Homo sapiens: one gene and its partners. The protein of the gene in region 3 purifies or fractionates together with the protein of the main gene of each other region. This does not show direct contact. Each region holds a gene or a part of one and is shown on either strand. Other genes may lie near its edges.

What was found.
Region 1: the proteins of SLC25A37 (region 3) and TMEM181 purify together in Homo sapiens (affinity purification with mass spectrometry; one large-scale study listed by BioGRID and IntAct). This does not show direct contact.
Region 2: the proteins of SLC25A37 (region 3) and RAB30 purify together in Homo sapiens (affinity purification with mass spectrometry; one large-scale study listed by BioGRID and IntAct). This does not show direct contact.

What each region holds. Positions count from the first base shown.
Region 1 is NC_000006.12:158,563,078-158,566,729, reverse strand, and holds part of TMEM181 (transmembrane protein 181), read right to left. Parts: intron 1-3,652.
Region 2 is NC_000011.10:82,975,145-82,977,928, forward strand, and holds part of RAB30 (ras-related protein Rab-30), read right to left. Parts: 3' UTR 1-2,784. UniProt on the Homo sapiens protein: The small GTPases Rab are key regulators of intracellular membrane trafficking, from the formation of transport vesicles to their fusion with membranes.
Region 3 is NC_000008.11:23,527,452-23,531,203, reverse strand, and holds the start of SLC25A37 (mitoferrin-1), read right to left. Parts: upstream 2,249-3,752; 5' UTR 2,202-2,248; coding exon 1,992-2,201; intron 1-1,991. UniProt on the Homo sapiens protein: Mitochondrial iron transporter that specifically mediates iron uptake in developing erythroid cells, thereby playing an essential role in heme biosynthesis.

The DNA of each region.
Region 1 (3,652 bases), on a different chromosome or scaffold from region 3:
ATCACTTCCCTCACCCCATCACCTCCCTCAACTCTTCACCATCATCTCCTTCACCCCATCACCTCCCTCACCCCATCACCTCCCTCATGAGCTCACCATCACCTCCCTCACCGTATCACCTCCCTCCACCCCATCACCTCCCTCAACTCCTCACCATCACCTCCCTCACCGTATCACCTCCCTCCACCCCATCACCTCCCTCAACTCCTCACCATCATCTCCTTCACCCCATCACCTCCCTCAGGAGCTCACCATCACCTCCCTCACCATCACCTCCCTCATCAACTCCTCGCCATCATCTTCCTCACCCCATCACCTCCCTCACCATCATCATCCTGGGACACACTGCTCTCTGTCCCCTCCCCTTCTCTACTCTCACTCCCTTGGTAATCTCATCCTGTCTCGGGCTTGCGAGAGGATGCAGGTATGAACAATGGCCTGCTCTAGACCTCAGCCCAGTCCTCTCCCCTCAACTCCAGACCCCTACTCAACCACTTGGCATGCCCGTTTGGCTATCAAGCAGGTACCTCACACATGACCTGCCTCACACCAAACCCCTGGTCCTGTGCCTGTGGCCTGGCCCATCTCAGGACACAACAACTCCAACCGTCCAGGTACACAAGCCAGGAGACTGGGAAGAATCTATTTAGATTCACCTCAGATATTCTACTAAATCCAAAGTTCTCCACCAGTACACACACCCCAGAAATAAAACAAAATTTAGAAGGAAACGCAACATACAAAGTCACATAGGCATAGAAAACCTCCTGTCTCGAGGTGCCGGGAACTGTCCTTTCAGAACGCAAGACAGCAGGCATCCCTGCTGTGGGGCACTGCCCATCCTGCGGCCACTGACAGGTCACTCCACCCCCGCCCCCACCGCGAGGCTCTGTGGGGGAAAGCAACTGTCCACTCGCCCGCAGGACACGCTGCACCAGTTTTCAGGATTTCATTGCAGGGGCTCCACTGTGGATCCACACCACACCCTCCCCACACCTGCAGCTCCCCTCCCACCCCCAGAGGCCAGCACTGAGCCTCAGGAATGGTGCAGGTCCAGTAACTTTCGATGCCTCTCATTTTTACTAACTCACTCTTCCCTGTTTTTTTCTGTTTTCCTCCATGTTCTCCTATTTTCCCTGCAATGGTAAATGGTAAGCGAACCACTGAATTGCAACATTGAACTTTCTCCCCCCAGCGTTGTCTCTTCCTGCTGTCTGTGGCTCTGGCTTTGGCCCTCTGCTTCTGTAGCTGGGGCACAGCAGTTCCTGGCAGCCCCATCCAGAAAACCTTCTCCCTGGGACCTGGTCCTTGAGGCCACAATGCTTGCTCAGGCCTGGCCAGCTGTAAAGCCATGTCCCCACTAGATGCACTGAGCACCTCGGGACCACGGCACCAACACAACTTTGCCCACTAAGTGCCTACCCCTCCCACATAGGGCTCACGAGGGGTTCAGAAAGCAGGGCCAGGAGGGCACGGCAGGGGAGGCGAGCAGTCCGCAAGCACTCAGCTGCCCTAGGACTGCTGCACAGAACCACAAAACAGATACAATCCGGGTAAGCAGAGGTCGTGAGAACACCTCAAATTGCTGTCCTGCAGCGAGAGGGACAGAGATGTGAGGGAAGCCAGCACCAGCATTCCCACTTCTACAGAACCCAGCAACACCAGCATCCGCAGCAGGGGCCCAAGGGGTGTGAGAGACACCTTCATCTCGGTCTCCGCAAACCACCACGACGGTAGGCGGGTAAGACCGAGAACTTCTGGTACTACACATCCTGCTGCTTGTTCAACTCATGCCGGCATCTCCCACATGAGAATTGACAAATTAGGATCTGAGCAGTAGTCGGGGACTTTAAATCTCCCAGCCCATTCTCACACTGTTGTTTTTATTTTTCCAATCTGTATAAAAATAATCTCTTCTCCTTTGGCCCAAAATGCCGGCCTGTTGCCTGACAGCCTGGCTCCCCACTTCCTGACCACATGACAGCAGGCAAGTAAACAGTTCCCCAGACCCTCAGTTTCCTCATCTGCAAAATGGAGAGAGGCAGAAGATTCATCTCACAGAGTTGCTGGCAGGTGCGGGTGGAATCATAAACATAGTGGTCAGAACAGCGTGGCAAGAACTCAGCCAGGCTAGCTATTAGAAACGATGGCTGTGCTTTTTCTCCTCTACTTTTTCTGTTTGAAAGCATTTTGGATTTCATTCTAACAACATCTTCAAAGACCCCACTGTATGAAGTCTCCCCTCCAGCTGGCTGCCGCAGAGGTGGGAGCTGGCATTTCCTGAGCACCTATTTGGTACCAGGCTGGGAGCTTCCCTGTAAGACAGGCACATCGGCCCATTTCACAGGTGGGAAAACACAGGCTGGGGTGAGAGGATGCAGGCCCACTGAGGCCCCAGGCAGCAGGGTGTGGAGGTGGGACTGGAACCCACAAATGCACACCCAGAATGTGGAGGTCGGGGCAGAAAGAAGGCCCACCACTCCCTCACATTCACTGTTTGGCCCCTCACTAAAATCTTTCCTTTTCAAGTAACCTACCAGCTAATGGGTTTTGAAAAGAAACTTCTCAAAGGGAGCAGGATAGGAACTCTAAAATTTCAATCAGCCAACTTGGGTATAAGTCATTTCTCTAGCTATTCAAGAGTTAAGTACAAGCCAGGCGCAGTGGCTCATGCCTGTAATCCCAGCACTTTCGGAAGCCGAGGTAGGTGCATCACCTGAGGTCAGGAGTTCAAGACCAGCCTGGCCAACATGGCAAAACCGTGTCCCTACTAAAAATACAAAAATTAGGTGTGGTGGCGCGCACCTGTAGTTCCAGCTTCTTGGGAGGCTGAGGCAGGAGAATTGCTTGAACCTGGGAGGCAAAGGTTGCAGTGAGCTGAGATCGCACCATTGCACTCCAGCCTGAGCAACAGAGTTCGCAAAGCTATTATGTGAACATTCAAGGCCTAACCACCTCAAAACACAATTTAATAAACAATGGTCTAAGCTACCCAAGGACTGGTGAGTTCATGTGTATCCTTTCCAGATTGCAAGCCCAGTGACTCACACGCAGGAGCATGTTGGTCAGTTCAGCAAATATCCTACCCAGGCCACAGGGAACAAGGAAGTAGGTCAAACGCTGGCCAGTGAGCCCCATTTCAGCACAAGCAGTGCTGGCCCTAGCAGGAGGCTCCAGGCAGTGCAGCCTGGTGGTTAGGAACCTGGGCTGGGGGCCAGCTGCCTGGACCTATCCACTGCAGGGTAACCTGGGGCAGTTACTCTACCTCTCAAGAACCCCAGTTCCTGGCCAAGCGTGGTGGCTCACACCTATAGTCCCAGCACTTTGGGAGGCTGAGGCAGGTAGATCACCTGAGGTCAGGAGTTCGAGACCAGCCTGGCCAACATGGTGAAACCCTGACTCTACTAAAAATACAAAAATTAGCCGGGCATGGTGGCACTTGCCTGTAAGCCCAGCTACTCAGGAGGCTGAGGCAGGAGAATCGCTTGAACCCGGGAGGCAGAGGTTGCAGTGAGCCGAGATCGCACCACTGCTCTCCAGCCTGGGTGACAGAGCGAGACTCTGTCTCAAAATACAAACAAACAAAACATCCCGTTTCTGAAAATTCAGGAAACTAGGGAACCCACCACCTAGCAATGCTGTGGCAATTAAA
Region 2 (2,784 bases), on a different chromosome or scaffold from region 3:
GATAAGAGGATTTTACATTTTTAAAAAATAAATCAATTAACATTCATTGTCAAATAACCTACAAGAAAGTTCCACTAGCATTCTGCAATTGTATAGAATAAGAGAATATTTGTTGCTAATGATTACATTCCAGAAAGCAATATGTTTAGCAGCTGTTTTTCAAAAGACTTGTCAAGTTTTACTATTGTTATTTAATCCAGGCATAAATGTGTAACCTTAAACAAAAACTGTGCATTATTCAACCAGCTAGTGACAAATTATCTTAACAAAGTAGATTATCTTTTGCTTTTCTGTACATGAATTTTTTCTTTATTAGGCATTTTGTATTCCAATTTTTGTTTTAGAATTTAGTGCACACGTAGAAAGGGGAAGAAACGCTTTTGGATGTTGGTAATTATGTACATCAAATAATGTCATATATGAAATTAAAAGCAGATCACAAAACCGAGATTCATGCCTCCATTTTTACCAAGGGGAGGAAACAAGAGCCATACAGCCAGAATAATTCTTCAGAAGCACACTTTGTTATCAATTATGTAACTAAAGAATCAAAGTATGTATATATAACTGAAGAGTTAATCAACAGTAAGACCGTGATCTACATCTGATACCAATAAGAAGCTAAGAGTAATAAATACCTATCCTGACATTCACTAAGTAAATAATGACTATCATTTTAATAATCATTATTTTTTCTGACTGTTATTTTTTTTAAATAGGCAAAAGAGCAATAATAAATGGCAAATGTGGCTCCTTAAAAAGAAGATAGGGATCAACCCAGTTTTCTTCCCATGAAGAATAGGAACAAGAAGAAAGAGGTTTAAATTGCTCTGTGAGGTATTTCAGTTCTAAGATTAAGCTTCCTGATAATGAGTTTACAACCCTGGAATTGCCTATTGGGAGAGAGAGAGAGACCACCTTGCCTGAAGTTTGTAAAGAAATGGAGGGTGACAGTAGTAATGCCCAAAGGCAAAAGGATGGATCAGACAAATGAATTCCTTTTAAGGCACCCTTTCAGAAATGGAGTTCTTTTCTTTGAAGCCAGGAAAGTTTCTTTGTTTTGTCTCTTAAGGATCTACACTTGGCATCAGACCATTCAAAGTCTGCTCTTAATTAAAGTGAAAAAGAACTAATATTTGAGTGCTAACTGTTTACCAAGCACTGTACTTTCAACTTATCTCATCTAATTTTCACAATAATCCTGACAGGTCTATCTCATAGATGAGAAGATTGATGCTCAAATATTGTGCTTCGTCTAAAGTCTCAGCTAATTTGTGGCATACTAGAACTCCTCACACCTAAACTAGTGTTTCCCCTTCTATATAACTCCCCACATCACTCTCCAAAGTGTCAAAGTCAGCAACCACCACCGATTCCGTCAGGAACTAGAACACAGCATCTCCAAAAATTCTGCTTTAAATCAATGGAAAAGTAAAATTTTGGCTCATACCTCAAGAAGTCAAAGAAGTGGTGACTAGCCTTTGTGCTCTGACCTCTTGTCCAAAGGAGTCCAAGAAAGTCTCAATCAAACTCAAATAGATTTGTCACCATACAGATTTAAGACCAATGACTTAAAAAAACAAAACAAAACCATAAAAAAAGACCAATGAAGAGCCGTCTATCAGCCTTGCAAGGGTGAAAGTTATTTTGCAGGTGGAATAATTTGGGCCATAGGCTTCAATAGCAAAAATTGCTTACAGTTACCTCTAATTTGCAAGTCAAAAATACTTGTTTTTATTGCTTTCCACATAAAGCAATTTGACCTCAGTTCTTTTAAACTCATGTATTCTCAAGAGAATCAAACCAACTAAGGAAATGTCATTGATACTTTTCTAAAATAGATCTTGTGGACTGCTTTATGTCAGTGACCCACCAGCCCATCTCTCTTGGGAGTTGGTCTGTTTGTGAGAACTTTAACAGAAGATTCTGCTCTGTTAAAAAGGCCTATCCTAAAATCTTGAAAGAGACACCCATTATTTATTAAACAGAGCAAGGCCTATGTTTAGCAAGTGATAAATGAATATACTTCATGTAACTTCTACTAAAACAATACCTTTTGATTCAACAGGACATCAATGAATGGACCGACAAAGCAAGTCCAGCATAGGGCATAATGGAGGGCCAGTCTCTTGGCCTAACAACGTGCAACCAACCTCTTCCCTGAAAGATAAAGGTGGGATGCACTTGTGGCAGAAGAACGAGGCCCCATTAAAAAAATCATTAGCTATGAATTAACAGATATTTAATTGAACATGTTATGAGAGGCAAAGTACTACATACAACATGGAATTTAGGTTAATAGGTCACCTGCTCCAATCTCCAACCAATTGGATCCTCTCCACATCTTTGCCTCTTGACAGAGGCTATTACCTGAGGCAGACTGTCCCATAGTGAACCAACTTTTTGAGAATGGTCGCCCTGACATGGAACCCAAATCTGTGTCCCTACGGCCTCATTCAGTAGGCCTCATTCCACCCCTCTGAACCACAGAGCATCTTGTTCTAATGCACTAATTGTATTCCCCTCTTTTTCCTAACCTAAGTCTCCCCAAATCCTTCAAGTATTCTTTAAATGGCTTGCATTTAAAATTCCTTCATCAGACTGGTAATGCCTCAATTTGTTTTTAATTTCAAAGTATGGCTCCTGGAAATGATAATAACATTCCAACATCAAGGGACTGAGGAGAGGAGATGAAATGCCATCTCCCTTACTCTAATGTTGCTATATTAATATGTGTTTTGAAGGGATGATAATTTCTTAATTCAGTATGAAAAAATTACCAGT
Region 3 (3,752 bases):
CTTGGCACTCAGTGGCAGCCTCAAAACCAACCCTGCACACTTCAGCATGGAAGGGCCCCTAAGGGTCAGTTATAATCCCAGAACCTAGAAGACTTCACTGATTAGCTAACCCACGCCTTGTTTTACAGACTTGTCTAGGAAAACCAGACCGGCTCCTTCTACCATTCACACCATGTTAACCTGTCCACAGGTGAAAACTGCTATGGAAAGTAATACTAAGTATACAGGTGACATCTGAACCAAAACATATCAACATGTATGGGGCAGGGAGAAACTAAACACAGATCACACAATTTAAACGTGTGAGAAACGCCTCTTGAGAGTGTCAAAGGGTGCTCAGAAGGCACAACTAATTATTTCTAATCCTAAAAATAAGCTAAAATGATGCTCTAAAGTGAACTCACTGTGGGGTTCCCGAATAGAACATTCATCTCAAGACACCAGTAGGACTAGGGCCTGCTCAGATAACACCTCCCTGCTCCTAACTTTCCCCAGACTCTGCCCAGGGCAGTTGAGACAACAGCTTCAATCATGGAGAATTTTATTACATTTGAGGGATTCTTTCCCATACAAATGCCACCTGGTATCAGTCCAGTGTCTTTCCTGGAGATGAGAACCATTCCTCTAACTCCCCACTGGGACACTGGAGGGACATATGGGTGATGGCTCAGGCTTAGGTCCAGCAGCACCTTGGAAGCCCATGTCTTTCCTCACTGGACTTCTGCCTGTCCAGACACTGACTGCTGGCTCCAAGCGAGCTCCCCGGAGCCGGGAAAACCCTCTGAGTTATACTTTCTGGCCTTCATACCTGCTCATGCAGGACCAGCATCAGCAACAAGATAAAGCTGCTGGGGGTGCCTCTGTGGGACCTGCCTTGCAAAATAATTGCCACCTAGAGAGGCCTCCGAATCCTCCAAAGCACACTGCAGCTGCAGCCAGAGGATAGGAGGTGGTGTAGGAGCCTGGGCAAGGTAATCGGTTCGCCTCTCTGCGCCTCAGTTTCTTCATCTGTTAACCCCCAGGGCTGTTGCATGAATTAGGCGAGTTATGCCTATAAAAGTGCAACGTGTAACAGTCAATACTGGCATTACTTCCTGCACTACTCTATCCTGGCCCTGGGGTGTTCTGGGCAGGCTGACAGAGGGCAGGTCTCAGTCTACCAGGCAAAACGCACCTAGTAACGCTGCCTCTTTACAGAAATGCAGTTAAAACTACCGGGGCAAGTGACAGACAGGGTTTAAAGGAAACTGAGTGCCTCTCACACAATCCACAGCAAGGGCTGTAAGGCACAAGCCCACCCACCTCCCCGCAAGCAAAAGGAGAAGGCAAACGTCATTGCCTCCCGGCGGCTCGGCGACCCAAAGTCGGGGGAAGAAGTGCAGGAACCCTCAGAAAGGGGATCCCACGGGCCGCTGTCGAACCGGTAAAGAGCTGCCACTAGTCGAGAGAAGACTTGCCGGCCCCAAGTTCCCGAAATAACCCGGGGAGCAGCAGCCACACACCAAGTCCCGAGGGCGCGCGGCCGGGCCAGGGCCACACGTTTCTCAGCTCCAGCGTGGTGAGGGCTTCCCCTGCGGGGAGCTCCCTCGGAAACCGCGCACGTGTGGGCGGCCCCAGCCAGCCCGAACGGCCAGCGTGGTAAGACTGTGCAGAGCTTCAGCGATCGCGTCCCCCGGGAGCCCAGTCGCCGCCGAAGCCAGCGGTGCTCGCCACTCCGCCTCCCCCGCCTCAGCGCCGCCAGCAGCCGGGGCCGGGCACGCGGCTGGAGCAGCGGGCGGTGCGGGGCGAGGACCGGGCACCCTCGCGGGGTCGGCGGAAGGCGCGGCGCCCAGGCTGCGCGCAGCTGCTCCTGGGGCGACCCCGGCCAGCCGCGGTCCTGGGGAGAGCTCGGTTTCGGGACGCTGCCCCGAGGCTGCCGGCGCGCGGGATGCAAATGCGCGCGCGCGCTCCTTCTCCGCTCGTTGCGTCCCCGAAGTCTCCCCGCGCCTCACCTTCACCGAGTCCACCGGGTACATGACCGAGTGCTCCAGGATCCCGGCCATCGCTCCTGCTGTCATGTGGGTGGACACGGAGGCGCTAGTCGGCAGGTTCTCGTAGTCCTCCGACCCGGTGGCGTCCTTGCCGCCGCCGCCATCTCGGCTGTCCCCATCCATCCTCCGCGCCACCGCCTGGCTGCCCACGCTCCCGCTGCGCAGCTCCATCCGCCAGCTCGGCGGGGCGCAGGAGGCTGCAGGAGGTGGGCAGGGAGGGGGAGGGGCGCAAAACTTCACTTCTTAAAGTGGGAGCCACCTCCCCGGGGCCGCGGCGCCTGACGCCATGGCGGGCTGGGGTGGAGCGCAGCGGCCAGAGACACCAATCGCCGGGAACCAAGAGGCCGGCGGCCGCCGCGCCATTGGTGTGCGGGACAGTGGGGACCCGCCTCCCTGTGTGACGTCACCGTCCCGTGCACATTTCCAAGCAACCGGACGGGGGCGAGAGGAGACGTGGGGTGGCCCGGAAAGTTGTACTATCTTGAGGATGGGCTGGTCCGCGAGGGGCAGGGGAGGTCATTGGGGAGGGGCCGCAGTGGGGTATGCCCAGAGCTGGAGGCATGGGTGACAGTGTCTCGGGGAAAATCCGTCCCCGTGGCGGGTGGGTTTGCAAACAGAATCGCTCAGTGAGCTTTGGCATTCCTAAGGCCTGAATTCAAACCTCAGGGGCCCGTTCTAGACTGCTTTGTTGGAGAGACCCCCATTCATTCGAAATTGTTTCTCTCAACCTAAATACATAATGCAGAGCTAAATGTGTTCCTCTTGTTCTCACCGAGAGACCGAACCCACCCTGCCCTGGACCGAGCAAGGCTATAAGGAGTGACCAGGAGGGAGCCCCTCTGAGTAGGCACCTCCAGGAAATTTTCTTTGGGTTTGATAGGCCCATAAGGTCTGTAGAGGCCTGATCTCACAGTTAGGAGTGTGAACTGGCTGAGAGTAAAATCTTACAGCCTTGCCCCTGCCTGTCTTAAGACTGTGGTCACCTAGTTCTTAAAGTCGTCCTAAGCTGGCCTCTTCAATAAAGTGTAACCCAGGCTGTTTTAATATTGTTTTGCTCCAGTCTGGGGAAAAAGGGAGAAATCAGAAAGTAGGGGAGGGACCTGTCTGCCTCTGGAAGTGTCCGTCTAAATTGCGTGTTCCAGGGCTTAAGATGACTTGGGCTGATCAACTTGTAGGCACCAGGGCCTCCCTGCCTTATCTAGACAAGGCTTCTCGTCAGGAAAGCTGGATCCTGAGATATGAAAGGGTGGGGAAGACCCTGAAGAGGCTGAGCCTACTCTCTGCCCTCACCGTGATCAGCATCCCAAGCAGCTCTTAGGGATTTGAGATACAGTAATGTGAGCATGGGTAGAGGTCAATAGAGGCGTCAGGACCAAGAGCACTGTTTGCCTAGTTTTGGTAGCTGCAGATAGTAGCTGGCAAGCTGAGTGCTAAGGATGTGATAAGTAAAAACAGGCTCTGTGTTTTTACTTAGCCATCTCTGTAATGGCTAGAGAAAACTCTACTTTTGTCAAAGGTCGTTTTTAAGAAATACTGATCAGAAGCTGTTGATCCTTATTTTTAAGTGGATGCCCTTTAAGCATTAAGTCTGTAAGAACCCACTGCCCCACTTCTGGGAATGTAACAAAAACCCAAATACACAGGAAGCTCTTCTTCAAAGCATTCCTTAGAGCAGTAAATCATTGGAAACAACCTAAATGGTCAACCAGAAGGGAATGGCTA